Regions from separate parts of the Homo sapiens genome. Here region 1 is linked to region 2. Evidence: fine-mapped expression QTL. A gene starts in region 2. The other region holds a variant in brackets. All regions are shown on one strand. Distances are from middle to middle. Region 1 overlaps IQCK (IQ motif containing K). Region 2 holds the start of IQCK (IQ motif containing K).

Region 1 (10,133 bases), 21 kb after region 2:
TTGAGGTCAGGAATTCGATACCAGCCTGGCCAACATGGTGAAACCCTGTCTCTACTAAAAATACAAAAATTAGCTGGGCATGGTGGCAGGAGAATCTCTTGAACCTGGGAGGCGGAGGTTGCAGTGAGCTAAGATCGTGCCACTGCACTCCAGCCTGGGCAACAGACTAAGACTCCATCACAAAAAAAAAAAAAAAAAAAATTATCCAGGCATGGTGGTGCACACTGATAACCCTAGCTACTTGGGAGGCTGAGGCAGGAGAATCGCTTGCACTCGGGAAGCGGAGGTTGCAGTGAGCTGAGATCGCACCACTGCGTTCCAGCCTGGGTGACAGAGCGAGAAAAAAAAAAAAATTAGCTGGGTGTGGTGGCAGGTACTTGCAGTCTCAGCTATTTGGGAGGCTAAGGTGGGAAGATTGCTTGAGCCTGAGAGGTCCAGGATGCAGTGAGCTATGATTGTGCCACTGCACTCCAGCCTGGGCGACAGAGTGAGACTCTGTCTCAAAAAAAAAAAAAAAAAGTAAAAAGTAGAAGAAAACATCATCATGCTTCCCTGCTTTGTGTGTGGAAGCAGGGGTGTATACTGCAGATCTGAGTCGTAGTTCCTTGGGCCCTCCCTGGTACCAGACCCTCTCCTACTGGTTTGTTCTGTGCCTTCTGCATGCCTTGGGCCTTGGCTAACGACTGCCTTTATTACTGTGACCCTAAGCCCTTACCCATTATACTCTGACTCCCAATTCCTCTCTGCTCCCATTTCCTACCACACTCCCCTTGTTTTTGTCCCTCCGGCCACACTGGGCCCCTTGCTATTCCTGCTTTGGGGCCATAACAAGCTGGTGGACCTGGCCTTATGTAGGATACTTCCTACATCTTCACCAGACTATAGAGGCTCAGAGGGACATTTTAAGTTACTTTAGTTATACAGCCCAGCTCTGTAGTCTGGAGCAAAATATAACATCTAAGATCATGTGATTGAATGGACAGTACCTTTTTCTGGCTCAAAAGTAAACATTTCTCCCAGATTGGCTCGGGCCACTGGGGATTTGCAGGGGGAATTTTTGTTTGTTTGTTTTAGGTTCTCCCAAAGAATATTTGGAAACTTTCATCTTTCCTGTTCTGCTTCCCGGAATGGCTAGCCTGCTTCACCAAGCGAAGAAAGAAAAATGTTTTGAGGTCAGTTGTTTGGCAGGATTTCTTTATTTTGAGATTCTCAATCATTCATTATTATCAGATGATAGCTCATTATCTTGGTACCATCAGGTTGTTCTCCAGATGACCCCTTCGGGAGGGAAAGCCTGTGTTTGGGGTCACTTACCCAGTTCCAGCCACACCATCTAGTTGTGCACATACATGCGCTGCCATCTGTCTGGCCACTTGGACTCCGGAGAGCTTTTCCGCCTTGCTTGGCCTCCTGCCTGCCCTTCTCCTGTGCAGTTTGGCATCCACCAGGTTTCTTGGGTCTTCAGCTTCTGTTTATTACATGCACTGATTAAAGCTCTCCTTGGCCGGGCACGGTGGCCCATGCCTATAATCCCAGCACTTTGGGAAGCTGAGGTGGGAGGATCACTTGATGCCAGGAGCTCAAGACCACTGGGCAACATAGTGAGACCCCCATCTCTAAAAAAAATTTTTTTTTAAATTAGCTAGGTGTGGTGGCGCATACCTGTAGCCTCAGCTACTCAAGAGGCTGAGGCAGGAAGGCCCCTTGAGGCCCAAAGTTTGAGGTTGCAGTGATCCATGATCACGTCACTGCACTCCAGCCTGGGCAATAGCAAGACCCTCAACTCAAAAAAAAAATCCCACAGAACTCTGCTTACTTCTTACTTGGCTCTAGATTGATTGTTCCCCCTGGCATCTCTCTACTCCATGCCAACTGTCATGAATGTAAACTGCTCGCAGAGAGTCTTGGAACACAGTAAGTGCTCAGTAAATAACATTAACATCACACTGCAGAGAATCAGCTTCTCTGCAGGGAAGTTTTAGTTTAGTATCTTTTTTCTTTTTGAGACAGGGTCTTGCTCTGTTTTCAGGCTGGGGTGCAGTGGCGTAATCATGGCACACTGCAGCCTCAACCTCCAGGGCTCAGTTGATCCTCCCACCTCAGCTTCCTGAGCAGCTGGGACTACGGGTATGCACCACCACGCCTGACTGATTGATTGATTGATTGATTGATTGTAGATACTGGGCAAAAACTCAGTGAACTCGGTAGAAACCGAGTTCCGATGCTGGCCTACACCCACGCGGATACCCTTAGAGGCTCCCTCTTTTCCGTAGTTCACGGGATACTTTGGGTGTATGTGTTCCCTGCACAGTTTTGAATTCTAGAATTTTGGATGATCCAGATGAAGAGAGTAAAATTACAACATTTATTATTGACCAGGCACTCGCTCTGTGCCAGGCACTTTGCTGAGTGCTGCATCTTCCATTATTGCAGTTGCTCTCCCCAGCCATGTGAGCTTCCTTCTATTATTATTATCTGCACTCTGCAGAGGAGAAAATGGAGGGACACAGAGGCCTGAAATGTGATCAAGGGTGAATGGCAGAGTTAGGACTCAAATCCAGATTAAATGATTCAAAATGATACTAAAGGCCGGGCACAGTGGCTCATGCCCATAATCCCAGCACTTTGGGAGGCCAAGGCAGAAGGATTGTCTGAGCCCAGGAGTTCGAGACCAGCCTGGGCAACAAAGTGAGACCCGGTATTTACAAAAAAAAAAAAAAAAAGAAAAAGAAAATTAGCCAGGCATGGTGGTGCATACCTGTAGTCCCAGCTGCTCATGGGGCTGAGATGGGAGGATCAACTGAGCCCTGGAAGTTGAGGCTGCAGTGTGCCATGATCATGCCACTGCACCCCAGCCTGGAAACAGAGCAAGACCCTGTCTCCAAAAGAAAAAAAAGATACTAAAAAAGTCGGCAGTAATTACAGTGTAAACCCCAATGAGGTTGACACATCCTAGGGTCTATAAAATTATCCATAGTTAATGATATCACCCAACTAGTTGCCCTTCAGCACAGGGTCCCCATCTGAGAACTGCCTACTGCCGTGCTGGTACTTCTATATACTGAGGAAATAAGGTTTTCCCATGTTCTAGCAAATACCCGATGTTTCCTCAGCAATGCCTTCACAGTATCCTGCCCCACTTGCCTCTTAATCACTCCATATTATACCTCCCCCTAATTGCCTGCCACTTAATTTGCTCAGCATAACATTCCTTTGACAGGCGTCACCATGACAGTTGTGTCTTTACTTGAGGCAGAAATGGATGATGAGACATTGATCAGAATTTGGGTAGCACGCTTAGGAAGGAAGAATTTGGGATACACCTCTGGGCCGTGGTTCACCATTTGACAACAGTAGATCCACATAACGAAGTCACTAGCCCTCAGCCTAGCTTTCAAGGCTCTGCCTAGTTCATGTGTTCATTGGTTCCTTCCTTCCTTTCTCCCTCCGTCTCTCCCCCGCAGTGCTCCCCTTCCCGATGGTACCCTCCACCCAAGCAGAACCACTCGAAGTTCGCTGCACCAACCCCCACCTCACGGCCTCTGTGCATCTGCTTCTGCTTTTTTTAGAAAAAAAATCCCTGAGCTCCTCTTCTCTGCATATTTAACTTCTACTTGTTTTTCCAAACTCAGCTCCATAACTTCTCTCTGAAGCTTCCAGTTCCCTGCTGGGCTCAAACTAGAAGTAATTGATCCCAACTCTCAGATTTCAGAGTATTTCATCTGTTCCTCATTTTATGGCAAATTAAGACATCCTTAATTAAGACATTCTTAGCCCACATATACTTAATTTTATGCATGTCTGTCTCCCCCTGTATTTTAAGTTCCTTGGGGACAGATTCTCTGATTTATTTTTATATCTTTAGTCAATGCTACCCAATGCCTAGCACATGGTGAACATAGAGTTGGCCCTTGATAAATATTAAATAAGTGAATGCATGATTATACACCAGGGAATGTCACTATTACTATGTCTTTGACCAAAACCCAGCTTCCTTCTATCTGGGAAGGCTGTTCTATTGGACTCATCCCTGGAGAAATTCCCTGGAGGGGTGAGGAAAGAAGATATGCTTCTATTTCATGAGTTTAGTTGATGGAGGAGAACAGTGAGGGGCAAATGACACAGTCTGACCCCCCCCACCTCATATATTAATTATGCAAATAATTAGTAAATTGGGCCTTGATTTATAGCGCAGCAGTTAAGAGCAACACTTGAGTCAAAGTTACCTGATTTTGAAGTCCACCTCCATCCCAGCTGGCAGCATAGCCCAGGACAAGTCATTTCATCTTTCTGAGCCATTATCACTTCCTTCCATGTAAAATGAGGCTGATCATAGCACCTGCTCATGGGATTATTATGCCGATGAAATGAGGTAGCTCATGTAAAGTACTTAGGCCAGTCCCTGGAACCTAGGAAGAACTCAATACATGTTAACTTATTTATCTCAGTGATACAGTGGTACAGGTACTTCCCAGATATTGTGGGTTACACCTGCTACCTGAGTGGTGTCACTCTTGTTCCTTCGCCATCTAGAGTCCTTATTCAGGACTTGGTCCCAGTTCCCAGAAAAACCATCCAATTCCACAGTGATCTCGCAAGGAGGGTTTGTTTTATGGGTTCTCTCATGGGAAGGTGGGGAAGAGGGTTGTGTTGGCACTTATCAAGCAATACTTCGTTAGTCCTCTCTGGAAGCATTTCTCACCCTCTGGGAACCCCCTCCCCATGCTCCCTCTGCAGACCCCTTTTGGATCCTGAACAATTCAGCTGTGGCTCTCAGCTTGCATGGCCCACTCAGCAAGGCCAAGCCCAGCATGCAGCTTTCCCTCCTCTCTTAAATGCAATTCAGCTATCATGTAGCCCTTGCAGGTGGAACTGGGGGTGGGGGCTTCACATCTCTCACCCCAACAAAGACACAGTTGTAAGGTTTTCCTCATATTGCTTTGTCAGAAATCCTAGTTTTGACACATAGGCCTGGTGAATTCAAATCTGGGGACCTCAGTCCCCACTCTTTCTCCTGATGTGCTACTACAGTCATGGTTGTCATATTGAACCTGGGAAGACCATAATGATCAGATCCCTTATTTTCACTAACAAGAGAGGGCACTCTGCTGATGAGAACTGTAAACAAAAAAGCTGGTAAAATAAAGTCAATGATTCAGGTACTGATGATTAAATCCAGGTAATTGCTCTCCTGTCACCTGTGGTTTGAGTACTGGTATGATAATCATCAGAAATTATATCAAAAGTCAGAGAAGACCCAGTGTGGTGGCTCATGCCTATAATCCCAGCACCTTGGGAGGCTGAGGCGTGTGGATCACTGGAGCTTAGGAGTTTGAGACCACCCTGGGTAACATGCCAAAACCCCATCTCTACAAAAAATACGAAAATTAGCTGGGCATGGTGGCACATGCCTGTGGTTCCAGTTACTTGGGAGGCTGAGGTGGGAGAATCACTTGAACCCTGGAAGTTGAGTCTGCAGTGAACCATGATGGCGCCACTGCACTCCAGCTTGGTTGACAGAGTGAGACCCTGTCTCAAAAAAAAAAAGAGGAGCCCTCTCATTGATTTATTGCCCGTTGTGCGTCAGCACTGGCATCCTATGCACCATCTTGTTTCACCCTTACAATAACCTTCTGAACCAGATCTTCTTTTTCATCACCTCCCTTTTACCAAGGATGGCCCTGGGACACAGAGAAGTTGAGCATTACTCAAGGTCACCTAGTAAGCAACAGACAGCACACATCTCCAACCAAGGCCCAGATGATCCTGAAGCCTGGGTTTCCATCCCTCCTAGTAAATGGGAGTTGGAGGCTGTCCTCAAAATAGCTCCCAGAGATACTGATTTTTTTTCATTCATAGCTATTTTCTGAAGAACAGACTGCTTACTTGCCTTCAGTTATCAAATTTAAACGGCTTCTAATTCTTATCTGTTTTTTCATTTGCTCACTTGGCTTTTCCTGACAATTTAATTCTTGTCCACTACTCATAACTGACCTTCCCCCATCATCTGTGTTTTGACTACTGCTATGATCATCATCAGAAATTGTATCAAATTGTGGTGTGATACAGTTGGTAGGTATCCCGTGGTGTTAAACAGGTGCAAGGTGTGGCTGAATGGAAGGGGAGTGAGGCTGGGTTGAAGAGTGGTCCCAGAGCAGACCTTCAGCCTGGCCACACCATTGTCAGATGGCTTTGTCCCTCTGCCTTCTGTTCTGCTGCTAAGTGAGGAAGAGCACCTCACGAGTCACATTTCAGCAATTGTATCACTTTTTCCTATCTTGCTGTTGACCAAAGTATATTGAGTG[C/T]ACTGTGTCTTTTTATTCGATTGAACAAAGGATGGAATATAATGATCAAACAATGAAATGAGCACAGTGGAATAATCTTTGTTTTCATACATGTAAAGAATATCTGGCCGGGCACGGTGGGTCATGCCTGTAATGCCAGCCCTTTGGGAGGCTGAGGCATGTGGATCATGCAGTCAGGAGTTTGAGACCAGCCTGGCCAACATGGTGAAACCCCATCTCTACTAAAAATACAAAAATTAGCCGGGCGTGGTGGCAGGTGCCTGAGTCCCAGCTACTCGGGAGGCTGAGGCAGGAGAATGGCTTGAATCCGAGAGGCAGAGGTTGCAGTGAGCCAAGATCGTGCCACTGCACTCCAGCCTGGGCAACAGAGCGAGACTCCATCTAAAAAAAAAAAAAAAAAGAATATCTACAAGCAGGATGAAGCAGGATGAGTCGCCCATGTTTGGTTCTGTTCAACAAACATTCATTAAGCCCTGCTGTGTGCTGATCATGAGGCCAGACCCCAGGGCACACTGAGGGGACAAGAAGACATGGTCCTGTCCTAGAGGAGCCATAATGATGAACTAAAGTTGTTTTTATTTTTCTTCCCCTTGTGTCTGTTTTTTTCACTCCTCTGAAATAAGAATGAATAAGGAGAAATGGCTACAGTGGATCTGTAGCTGGGGATTCATTTCTAGACCTTGGTGCATGTATATTCCATTGTGCAACCTTTATTCTAATTTACTTGGCCATTATTCTTCTAATTTATACCCTTTCAGAGGGCACAAAAATCAGCTAAAAGGGCAGTAATTAAGATTTTACATGAAGGTTGCATATCTAATATTTGACCATAAATAATTTTGTAACAAGGGGGCTAGAAACAGTTTCCAGCCTGTAAGCAGTGATAAAATGCTTTGAAAGAACCAGATAAATTTCTAATTATATTAGAGATTAATGAGGCATCCTTGTGCCAACTCATATTTCATTGTTGACATCCTACAGATGAGCTACTCCTGAGACTAAATGAAAACAGTCTAGATGTCAGATGCTCCAGGGTGCTTGAACAGAGCATTAAAGTTTAAATTGTATAATGAATGATAAAGCAATGTAGAAAATGTGGGTTGTTAAAACTGTTCATATGTGGCCAGGCATGGTGGTTCATGCCTGTAATCCCACCACTTAGAGAGGCCGAGGCGGGAGGATTGCTTGAACCCAGGAGTTCGAGACCAGCCTGGGCAACATGGTGAAATCCCGTCTCTACTAAAAATACCAAAATTAGCCAGGTGTGGTTGCAGGCACCTGTAATTTCAGCTACTTGGGAGGCTGAGTCAGGAGACTTGCTTGAACCTGGGAGGCAGAGCTTGCAGTGAGCCAAGATCTCATCACTGCAGTCCAACCTGGGTGACAGAGTGAGACTGAGTCTCAAAAACAACAAAAACAACAACAAACTTGTTCACTTATAAGAGTGGAGAAGCTTGAAAGGCAGGCACACGGGAGTTCAAAATCCTGCTAGACTGCTTCCTTGCAGCATGGCCCTAAGTAATCCGTGAGCCTCAGTTTCCTCAACTATTGAAAGGACAGCAGACCTGCTCCTGTCATTGGGCGGAAGAGGGGAAGTAATGAATGATACTTCCAGACCCAAGGAATGTTAACTTCCTCCTCCTCTGCTTCTCACGCTTTGCCAGGAAGTTCAGTATTTTGAATGCTACAAATACGCAAGGTGGGTAAATTACTATTAACTTTCTTCATTTCCTGACTTAGGGTTTTTTAATTAAATCGGATTCCCTCCATGTTCCCCCGTCCCCGGTCATCTAGTCTTTTGTGGGTTATTTTCGAAGGCTTAAAAATGACATTAGTACCATTTCAACATTTGTCAGACCCAAGTGGAACTCCCCTTATCCTGATCTGCACAACAGATTCACATTTTCTTGATTCAGCTGTTCCTCACATCCTGTCATTGGGAATAGATGCTTAAACTGAATGATGACTGGCCTCCAACCAAAATTACATAACTGGGGCATTTTTATCTGTCACCCACAACTGAACTTGCATCCAATTGGCTCTTACACAGCAGCGTAATTCATTGTTTATTGATGCCATTCAAATTATATCTTGAAATAACATTTATATTAAGTTGCTCAAAAATACTTGCTGATCTGCGTTTTGCCCTTAAACTGCTGATGTCTAGTTATTTATACTTGACTTCATTATTTTTCTGTTTTTTCTTTCTATGACATGGCCCCCATAGTGCCTGGAACATAGTAGGAACTCAATGAGTATTTATTGGATAAATGAATGAATATGGATTCTCAAAAGATGGGGCTGGCCAGATGCAGTGGCTCATGCCTATAATCCCAGCACTTTGGGAGGCCGAGGCGGGTAGATCACTTGAGGTCAGGAGTTCAAGGCCACCCTGGCCAACATGGCAAAACCCTGTCTCTACTAAGAATACAAAAAAATTAGTTGGGCATGGTGGCACGTGCCTGTAATTCCAGCTACTCGGGAGGCTGAGGCAGGAGAATCGCTTGAACCCAGGTTGCAAAGGTTGCAGTGAGCTGAGATCACGCCACTGCCCTCCAGCCTGGGTGGCAGAGTGAGATTCTGTCTCAAATAAATAAATAAATAAATAAAAGTCAGGGCCTACTTTTAAGATCATAATTAAGCTACATGAGCACTCTGGAGGTCTGTGACCTTTATTCAGTTTGTTGTAGTTATTACACACAGGAGGTAATTTATTAACTATACCTGCAGTGACTGGATCTACTGCCTCTGGAGGGAGGTAAACAATGGGGAGACCGCCTAAGTCTGCTAGGCTCCCTGGAGCTGGAGCTGGGCAAGGAGCAAATCCCCTCAAATTGAAGGAGCCTCATTCACAGACAATGGAGAGCCAGAGAGTAGAGCAAGAGGCTAGGATTCAAGAATAGTAGTTGTCAGCACTTTTTGAGCCTTGCTTTGTGCCAGATGTCATTCTAAGCACTTTACCTGCAGTCACTCATTTAATCCTCCCAACAATCTTTGGAGGTGGATGCTATTATCATCATCTTATGGATCAGGGCTGTACAGCACCAGGGCTAACCAAGAAGCTTAAGTTCACAGCTAGAAAGTGGCAGAGCCAAGACTCAAACCAAGAATTGTTCCAGAGTCTAAGAGTTTGACCACTGCTCCACTCTGATGGTCAGTCACACAGCTTGCTGAAAGCAGAGGTCAGATTCTGACATGAAAGATGGGTCTGGAGGCTGTGGAGAAAAGGAGTGAGAAGTTAGCAAGCCTTTTATTTAGGTTGTCCTGCCAGTACCATGAAACTCCAAGGAAGACCAGGGGGAACAGAGCAGACAGAGAAACAGCAAGAGCTGGCACCTAATTACTATGCCATAGAGCATTTGGCCAATTACACACACATCTATTGTGTGGTGTGTGGTGTGTGTGGGTGTGTGTATAGGTGTAGGTGTGTCTGCACACATGAATTCAGGCATTGTGTGGTACATGGTTCAGCAATTCCATGATTCCAGCCTCTGGAATCAGGCAGACCCTTTCAACCCAGGCCTGTTCCCCAAAAGCTATGCAAGCTTGATTATTTTGATTTTGAGTCACTCATCTTGTGATTCTTTTATATATATCATTTTAAATACTATGAATTTAATATAGTTTCTAAACAAACAGTTGTTCCTGCTTAGATTATTTTTTCTTCTTTTCTCTAAGCACACAAATAGTATATTTTTTCATTTTAAAAATTATTTTCATTTTTATTTTTAGAGATGGGGTCTCACTGTGTTGCCCAGGCTGGTCTCAAACTCCTGAGCTCAAGTGGTCCTCCTGCCTTGGTTTCCCAAAGTCCTGGGATTACAGGGA
Region 2 (9,907 bases):
AGGAGGATGGGCCATAAACCAAGATAGAAAAATACAAAGCCCAGAGCTGAGGAAATCTCATACAGGCATCTCCGGCTACCCAAATCTATTTGATGTATAAATTGTGTATACTGAGCTGTGATGATACTCAGATAGCTACAGGCACTACGTTATCTCATGTTACTTGGTTCCTGAGTTTTGGATAGCAAGTGGCAAGAGTTCAGAAAGCAAGGGATTCATCTGAAAAATTGATCCCAGTTAATTCAGACCCCAACGGCAGACAGGGAAAACTTGGGTGGTTTCAGTAGCAAAGGATACCTGCAATTATCGATGATACTGCATGAGCCCCTAGATCCAGCCATACCTGAAGCTAGTTAACCATAACCTTTCCAATTGCATATATCAATAAACTCCCTATTCTGGCTGAAATTAATTTAACCAGGGTTTTAGCTAAAAGCATGAGTACTCGTGCATGTACAAACATGCACACACGCCTACACACCCCTCCCAAACCCCACCCTTAATTCTCCCACGGCAAAGTCCATTTCTGAAGGAAAAACTACCTCCTTCCAAGGGTCTCCTGCTACCCCACTCTCTTTCCTCTTCTTCTTTTTCTTCCTTTTCAGAGCTGGCTCCTCGATGACTGGCTGCTCTACCTTCTTTTTGGACTTCATCTTTTTCTTTGCGGAGGCCTTAGGGTCATCACTTATGGGGATGTATTCCGGAGCCTCAACTTTGACTGGCTTCTTTTTACTTCCTTTCCTAGGGCTGCTCTCCATGGACCTGGAGGGCTTGGAGTGGCCTGGGAGGGCATCTCCCTCCTGGTGGATTTTTTTTTTCTTCTTCACCTTCCCATTGTGTTCTCTGGGGCTCTTCCGCTTCCGTTTCTGCCCCAAGGCTGCCTGTTCCTCATCCTTCTTCCCCACTGAGCAAGTGTCCCCAACATCCCTGGCCTCCCTGGCCTCACAGAACCAAGGGTCCTGGACCGAGAAGGCTGTGGGGTCCTGGGCCCCCTTTTTTTCCTTCTTGTGTTTTTTGAGCTTCTTGCCAACTCTGGTTTCCTCCTCACCCTGTCTAGGGTCTGGGGAGGTTTTCACCCCAGAGGCATGGGACATGGCTAGAGGTGACTTCTTATTTTTCTTTTCCCCACTGAGGAACTCCAAGTGGCCAAACACCTGCTTCCTGAGGCTGGGTGACTTCTCTGTCCGTCTAGCAGGCAGCGTGGTCTCAGGTTCTACATGCTCCTCGCAAAGGGTGCTGACACCCTTCTTTTTCTTCTTCTTTTTCTTCACTAGAGGCATCTCAGGTGCCTGCCCATGGGCCACACTCTTAGAGGGGGATGTAGCTCTTAAAGGAGAAACATCAGCAAAGTAATCATCATTGTTTAAAACTGAGTATCGAGTCTCTGGTTCTTTGACCACTTTCTTCTTCTTTTTCTTCTCTGGGAGCCCAAGGTCTACTTTGTGTGTCTTGGTGATCATTCCTGAAAAAACAAATGGTACAAGTTATCCCATACCAAGCCATCCTGTGTTCAATTCTACTAAGCATTGCCAAGAGCCATGTTTCTTTGAGTGGGTGGTCAAAGCGTTGTGGGACAGGGAAAATGGACATGATTCCTTTAAAGCAAAAAAAGAAATACTACAGAAACAGCGTAAATTTTAAATCCACACAGCCCTAGGTTCAAACCTAAATGCCTCTCTCACCTTAAGTAAATCAGCTAACCTCCCTGAGCCTCAATTTCTCCATCTGGAAAATGGGGGAATATAACACCTCCCTCCTCAAAAGGGTGTTGGAGGGAGTAAATGAGATAACCCATGGAAAGGGCTTGGTACACTGTTAATTCCCTTTTTCTTTTTCTCTTTTTTTTTTTTTTTTTTTGAGACAGAGTCTTGCTCTGTCACCCAAGCTGGAATGCAGTGGCGTGATCTCGGCCCACTGCAACCTCCGTCTCCTGGGTTCAAGTGATTCTCCTGCCTCAGCCTCCCCTGAGTAGCTGGGATAACAGGCACCCGTGATCATGCCCAGCTAATTTTTTTTTTCTTTTTTAGGAGGGACGGGGTTTCTCCATGTTGGCCAGGCTAGTCTCAAACTCCTGACCTCAAGTGATCCGCCCGCCTCAGCCTCCCAAAGTGCTGGGATTACACGCATGAGCCACCTTGCCTGGCCTAGTTCCACTGTTTTTAAAATTTGAAGTTGATTGCCAACACTGAATGAGTCACAATGATGCACAGTACTGAGGGCACCCAGCTTGTCTTGGACAGATATCGTGGAAGCACCTGTGAGAATGGGCTGGGGTCCTCAATACCCATCAGTGTCCAGCTGGACCACTGCTCTCACTCCAGTCCCCAGCCAAGTTCCTGCACTAGACATTCCCAGAATCTAGAAGCAAAATATCCCAAAATATTTCATAGCAAGTTAGGATCATGGGAGGGAAAGGAAAAACTTCTCCATCCTGCAGCCCTCCTCAGCTTCGGAACTCAGAGGGTCCACACTGGAGCTGGCTCTCTCTTAGCAGCTTCAAAGAGCCAGGCCTGAGCTACAGGTCAAGTTCATTCATAACCCACTCCAGGCGCACCTGGAGAGTCAAGGGAATAACTATACTCATTCATTGCTGTCTGCCCTGTTTCCTGGTTTATTTCCAGTGTCCTGCTCAGTGCCTGGCACATAGCAGGTGCTCAATACATACTCACTGAATGAATGCACACATGCTAGGGATACAGAGATGAACAAGATAAAACACCACCCATCAAGAAGCAAGTAGGTGTGGGAGGGAATAAGGTGTAATACAATGATACAGGTGATAAAAGCAAGGACAGTGCTAAGGTCAGGGTGGTGGAGGTTGTGGAACCTGTCCTACCAGTTGTCAGGAAAATTTCTGAAGAACAACTGCAGGATGGTGGTATTAATCCCTGAGACAAAGGTACTGAAGGCAAGTGGCTGAAGAACAGGCTTGATTGGACAGATGACTTGGAGATGTTCACTGGACAGGTGAATATATATGGATGAGGAGTTTGGGTGGCCGTGCTGACACGGGCGACATAAAGTTAGGAATGTATGGGTGGTGATAAGCCTTGAACAGAACAAGCCTGAGACAAGACTTCAAGAAATACAGTAGCTCGCCACCTAATCCCAGGTTTCCGTTACCCCTGGTCAACCCTGGTCCCAAAATAGGTGAGCACAGTACAGGAAGTTATCTTGAGAGGGAGACCACATGCATGCAACTTTTATTACAGTATACTGTTGTAATTGTTCTATTTTATTACTAGCTAGATTGTTGGTAATCGTTTACTGCACCTAATTTTTTGTGAGACAAGGTCTGGCTCTGTTGCCCAGGCTGGAGTGCAGTGGCATCATCTCGGCTCACTGCAACCTCCACCTCCCGGGTTCAAGCAATTTTCACGCCTCAGCCTCCCGAGTAGCCGGGATTACAGGCACATACCACCACGCCCGGCTAATTTTTGTATTTTTAGTAGGGACGGGGTTTTACTATGTTGGCCAGGCTGGTCTCCAACTACTGGCCTCAGGTGATCCGCCCGCCTCATCCTCCCAAAGTGCTGGGATTACAGGCATGAGCCACCACGCCCGGCCCTACTGTGCCTAATTTATAAACTTTCTCATAGATAGTATACACAAGAAAAAACAGTTATATTTAGGGTTCGGTACTGTCTGTGGTTTCAGGCATCCACTGGGGGTTTAGGAACGTACTGCCCGCGGATAATGGGGGAGGGGGACTATTGTATTGGCATTTAAATAAGTGGGCAGAGATAAAGGAGCTTGCAAAGAAGAAGGTGCAAACCTTGAAATAGTGTAGTCAGGAGAGCCAAGACGACTTCAGAATAGGGGAGCAGTCAAGAGAGCCAAGACGACTTCAGAATAGGGGAGCAGTCAAGAGAGCCAAGACGACTTCAGAATAGGGGAGTGGCCAAGAGATCTGGTAAGAACAAAGAATCCACCGGGAGGTTGCGGGTCAACTCTTAATCCCCTTCTCTCCCCATCTCTTGCCATTTAGAAAAGTATAGCATCCTCCTCTTTAGCCCTGCGACCAAATGCATTCACTCTTTCAAGGAGAAAGGAAAAGAACGTTACAGTGCATCTCCTGCAAACGCAAACGCTTTCTCCAAAACCGCTTTTAAATTCCAGGGACAGCCTTGTGAAGATCTTTGTGAATACCCGACCTCGCAAGCTCCAGAGACTACAATAATTCACTTGCCCTAGGTTCCAAAGCCAGCAAGTGGAAAACGGAGACTGGAATTCCGCCCACAGGACTCCAAAGCCTGTGCAGCAACACCCCACTCCCCCGGCAGGATCACCAGCAGGACGCGCGGGAGCCAGGAAGTAAGATCCGTACCTCCAAGGCTCCCATGGGCCCAAGCCTCCGCATCAACAGACTGGGAGGGATTACGTGGGGTCCCAGGGCCGGCTCTGAGGCGGGAAAACTTTCTGGAGGCGGCGGCCTCAGGCCGGAGCGGGCGCACACCGACTGGAGGGGTCGGATTCAGGGATGTGGGTGGACCGCATTTCCCCATCTTCCCCGCCGCGCACTTCCTCTGGTGCAATCTCCACACCCCGCGCCGGCCCGCCTGCAACGCGCCCTGGCACTCACCGGTGGGCGAAATTTCCCCGCCTCCACGTGAGAGCCAGCTCCGCCGTGACCCGGAAGTCCACTTCGAGTCGCCGGCCCACCCTCTCGGGTTCCGGCTTCTTCCGGGTCGCGGCCTTCCGGCGAACGCGGTTACCGTGGAAACCGCGGCCATGGCGGCACCGCGGCAAATCCCCAGCCACATAGTGCGCCTCAAGCCCAGCTGCTCTACAGACTCGTCGTTCACCCGGACGCCGGTGCCCACCGTGTCTCTCGCGTCCCGCGAGCTGCCTGTCTCGTCGTGGCAGGTCACCGAGCCGTCAAGCAAGAATCTGTGGGAGCAGATCTGCAAGGGTAGGAAACCTGGGCTGGCCGAGAGGGGCGGGACCCGGGCGGCCGGACGGGGGCCGCGTTTGGGGAGCGCCCACTGTGCGCCTGTCGGCTGACGGGCGGGGCCGCCGGGCAGCGGCTCCGCGGGCCCGGGCTCCGCATTTTACGCATGGGGAAACTGAGGCTCGGAGAGGCTGGCCCGAGGTTACGCAGCGCGGACTCCAATCGCGATCCGTAGTGAGGTTAAAGGCAAGGGAACGGCGAGGGAAAGCTGAATAAAGAGAACCATGCGGTGTGGACCATTGGTTCTTAAACCTCGGTTAGTGAACCGAAAGGAATTGCTGGGGCGGGGGCCGGGGTGGGGATCTTGTTATAAACGGAGGTTCCCAGGCCCCGCCCACAGAGCTTCAAATTGGGATGCAGGGAATCTGCACTTTTTAAAAGAGCACCCCAGGTAATCCTAACGTAGGTAGTCGGTGGCCCACACGTTCAGTAACCATGGTGTGGACAAACGGGTTTTAGTCCCTTCTTGCTTCAAACCTTCCTTAACCTCCCCAGGCGGAGTTGAGCACATCTTCCTTTGTGGCTCTACTCAGTATTTGTTACTTAGGTTGGGCAAATTATTTAACTTATGACCCTGTCTGCAAAGTGGGCATAATAATGGCACCTATTTCGATGGTGTTAAGAAGATGGAACCAGATAGTCACAAAAAGTGCTTAGCAAACTGCCTGATTTTAGGAGGGCAAAAGGATTATTGGGGAAAAAAAAACACAAACTGCTCGATTTACAGAAGGAGCTACGTAAGCGCTAGTTCTTAATGAATAATGTTGGGTGGGATGTTTTCTTTTTCCTCCACTAGACCATAAGCTCCTCAAGGTCAAGGACTCAGATTTTTCATTCGTGTGGCCACCATCACTACCTAAGCTGCCTGAAACAGCGCGGTGAAACCCCGTCTCTACTGAAAATACAAAAAAAAAATTATCTGGGCGTGGTGGTGTGCGCCTATAATCTCAGCTACTTGGGAGGCTGAGGAAAGGGAATTGCTTGAACCAGGGAGGTGGCGTTGCAGTGAGCCGAGTTTGCGCCACTGCACTCCAGCCTGGGTGACAGAGCGAGACTCCATCCCCAAAAAAAAAAAAGTGTGGTTAGTTAGCATTTGAAATGTGATTAGTGCAATTGAGTAACTGAATTTCTTGTTGGACTCAAATTTTTTTTTTTTTTTTTTTTTTGAGACGGCATGTTGCTCTGTCGCCCAGGCTGGAATGCAGTGGCACTGGCTGGGCTCACTGCAACCTCCGCCTCCCGGGTTCAAGCATTCTCACACCTCAATCTCCTGAGTAGCTGGGATTACAGGCACCCGTCATCATTCCTGGCTAATTTTTTTATTTTTGTAGAGAAGGGGTTTCACCATTTTGGCCAGGCTGCTCTTGAACTCCTGACCTCAGGTGATCTACCTGCCTCGGCCTCCCAAAGTGCTACAATTACAGGCCTGAGCCACCAGGCCCAGCCCAGACTTAATTTTAATAAATTTAAATAGCCACATTTGGATAGTGGCTGCTGTATTGGATAGTGCAGGTCAGTAAATGTTTATTGAATGGAAAAAAAGAATGAATGTACCAGTATATGCGATGACTCGAAAGAAGTGGAGAATACAGAGAAGGAAGAGAATAGTAGACTCAGTTGATAGATGCCCTCCAAAGCTGTCTGTTTCAACCCCATCCAGTACTTAAATTCCTTCTCCAACCTTACATTGTGCTAGAAAAATCCCTTTCATTTTGCATGTTCTCTTTGTCACTTTCACCCCTACGTCCTTACCTCTTGGTGCTATGATCCAAGGAGCTAATCACTCTACCCCAAAGAATCTACTCAGATAATTTGACGGTAGTTATTGTGGCTGCCTTTTCCCCAGAGCTTTCACTTCTCCAAGCCAAACAGTTTCTTATAATACAGTTTACTAGAGGATTGTTAGAAAAGTTACTCAGCCTCATCTGTAAGAGACAGATAATTGTTGTGCCTACCTCACAGGGCTGTTGTGGGGACCAAGTAAGATAATGTATGAAAAGGTGCTTAGCACAGTGCCTGGCATTTAAAAAGTAGTCAATAAATGTTCATTATTGTTGACAAAGAAACATGCCTTGTGTTGTGATTTACACACCGAGTTTATTTTGGTCAAATAGGCCTCTAGAGAGAAAGCAAAGACAAAGGGTTTTGGTTCTCTCTGAAGAGCAAGTGAATTGATGCCACTTTTAAAATGATAGAGTTACAGAATGAGGTCAGGCATGGTGGCTCACACCTGTAATCCCAGCACTTTGGGAGGCCAAGGCGGGTGGATCACCTGCGGTCAGGAATTGGAGACTAGCCTGGCCAACATGTTGAAACCCTGTCTCTACTAAAAATATAAAAACTAAGTCAGGCTTGGTGGTGGGTAATCCCAGCTACTCAGGAGACTGAGGCAGGAGAGTCGCTTGAACCTGAGAGGCGGAGGTTGCAATGACCTGAGATCGTGCCACTGCACTCCAGCCTGGGCAACAAAGTAAGAATCCGTCTAGAAAAAAAAAAAAAACAATTCAGTGAGGTCAACATTGGCAAACTATACACATGGACACTGTGATGAGTATTATAACAGATGGATAAACCCAATTCTTAAACATCTAACAAATGCAGTTTTCTATAACATGTAGTAAATTCAGTTTCTGACAACAAACATGAAAAAACAGGCTTTGTAGTAATCCTATCTTTGAGATTAAGTACTACATTCTCTTAAGATAATCTCCATTCAAAAGACAAATTATCATAGCAAACAGACCTGCCAGAAACTCAATTTCATGAAGACAAAATACAAAGTAGGTCAATATCTAACTTACACAGACCTTAACCAACCTGACTAGTGCTCTTTTGTATGTATGTGCATGCTCACCACTATAACTTATTTGTAAATATTCTTCAGTTTTCTCCCTCATCTTTCCAGTGACAACTGAGTTTTGTATTCTAAAAAGCACTCGTGTTAGTGTCAATAAACTTCTTCCCGGCCAACACTTCTAATCAAATCTTATAGTAGTTTGTGACTAGCTGTGTTCATGGTTTTAATCAAGACAATCAAAGGATGTGGGGCTTAACAGTTTCCTTTTTTTTTTTTTTTTGAGATGAAGTCTGGCTCTGTCACCCAGGCTGCAGTGCAGTGGCGCAATCTCGGCTCACTGCAACCTCTGCCTCCCAGATTCAAGCAATTCTCCTGCTTCAGCCTCCCAAATAGCTGGGATTACAGGCACCCACCACCATGCCTGGCTAATTTTTTGTAGAGATGGGGTTTTGCCATGTTGGCCAAGCTGGTCTCAAACACCTGACCTCAAGCAGTCAGCCCGCCTCATCCTCCCAAAGTGCTGGGATTACAGGCGTGAGCCACCGCGCCTGGCCTTACAGTTTCCTATTTTGATATGCTGTGATTACTGTTATCAGCATCCTCACTATTGTCATTGGTTCATCACTTAATCAAGCACTCTCTGGCCTCAGCCCTCAATGCTGTTGTAAAATCTGGCCTTTCATTTCACCTGCCAGATACCGACATGGATCAGTTGTGAATCAATACTTGTTCCTCCAGCACAGCCACTGAGCCAGCTGAAGAAAGATGACCCCAACTGGCTCTCAGCACTGCTCAGCAATCAGCATCTCTCAATGCCTTCTCCCATTGCCTGGTTCTACTAGTCCAAGTCTGTAACACCTCCTGAAATGTTCTGTGATACCTCTTAGCATAGGATGCGTTCACTGAGAAGAGTCAGGCAGTCAGGAGTGGGGAGGGAGTCTGCTAACATCCATCTGTACACGTGGAAGAAGCTCTCACCCCGCTACTCGCCACTCAGCTCTCCATCTTTGCTTACCGTCCCCTTGCTATTCCAGGATCCTGCTTTATCACTCACTTCCTCTGCTACGCCTTTAACTTCTCTACTAGCTTTTTCCTCCAAACACCCCTGGCCTGTCATATCAGGAAGAAACCTCCACCATGACCCTATATCCTCTTCCAGCTCCTATCAGTCTTTCATTCCCATTCCCTTATCAACTAAGGGCAGACCAGCTTCTTCCTCATTTCTCCGAATAAATTGTTCTTAAGCATTGAGCCAACTTGTATCTACCAGGGCTGGGAACTGTTTTCAATGCTGGGCCAGGTATAACTGCAGGCACTGTTTTAGACGCCAACAACTTATCTCCATCTCCACGAATGTTACCATCGTTCACTCAGCTGCCCAGTCCAGCTTTTTTTTTTTTTTCCTTCCCTTGAGACAGAGTCTTGCTCTGTTGCCCAGGCTGGAGTACAGAGGTGCGATATCTGCTTACTTCAACTTCCACCTCCCAGGTTCAAGCAATTCCCCCACCTCAGCCTCCTGAGTAGCTGGGATTACAGGCACTTGACACCATGCCCAGCTAATTTTTGTATTTTTAGGTGGGGTTTCACCATGTTGGCCAGGCTGGTGTCGAACTCCTGACCTTAGGTGATCCACCCGCCTCAGCCTCCCAAAGTGCTGGGATTACAGGCGTGAGCTACCGCATCCGGCCTGCTTCCCTTTCACTTTCCACGGCCCCACACTCTCATTTGCCAGTCCTTATAGATTCTACCTGTTTAATATCTCCCACCATCCCCACCCTGCCCCCACTCCCCACCCCCACCAGTCTTCATGTCTGCTGCCTTAGATCAGGCCCTTACCACCCCCTGCTTAGATTGCTGCTGTGGCTTGTTAATTGAGGCAGGCCTCCTTCCAGACCATATCCCACTGGCTGTCGTAGGAACCTCTCTAAAATTCAAATCTAATCGCATCATGCTGTGACCTACAATGATTTTCATAGCTTACAGATAAACTCCTTAGCTTAACCCTTAAGCTTCTTAACGTCCCATCTCTGTTTACTTTTCTTAGTTCACAACATACCATTCACCCAAATCATCCTAATGGCAACCATTTATTGAGCTGCTGTTTATGTGCCAGGCATTGTGCTAGGTGCATTACTTCTCATTTAAGCCTCACAGCAACA

The links. PIP is the estimated chance that this variant, and not a neighbour inherited with it, causes the effect. A credible set is the group of variants that fine-mapping cannot tell apart.
Region 1: its variant is the best candidate, but not a certain one, in a credible set for the expression of IQCK in whole blood (TOPMed, PIP 0.82).

The regions. Positions count from the first base shown.
Region 1 is chr16:19,734,279-19,744,411 of GRCh38, forward strand. It overlaps IQCK (IQ motif containing K), which reads left to right. Exons shown (of 9, transcript NM_153208.3): 4 at 1,075-1,172. Among named protein-coding and RNA genes, the nearest start is that of IQCK, 21 kb to the left of the region's middle. The variant C/T (reference allele first, on the strand shown) is at 6,306.
Region 2 is chr16:19,713,576-19,723,482 of GRCh38, forward strand. IQCK (IQ motif containing K) reads left to right here and starts at 4,696. Exons shown (of 9, transcript NM_153208.3): 1 at 4,696-4,912. The coding sequence starts at 4,732. KNOP1 (lysine rich nucleolar protein 1) reads right to left here and starts at 4,652. Exons shown (of 5, transcript NM_001012991.3): 1 at 4,583-4,652; 2 at 543-1,462. The coding sequence starts at 1,460. RefSeq lists an enhancer at 4,576-4,905.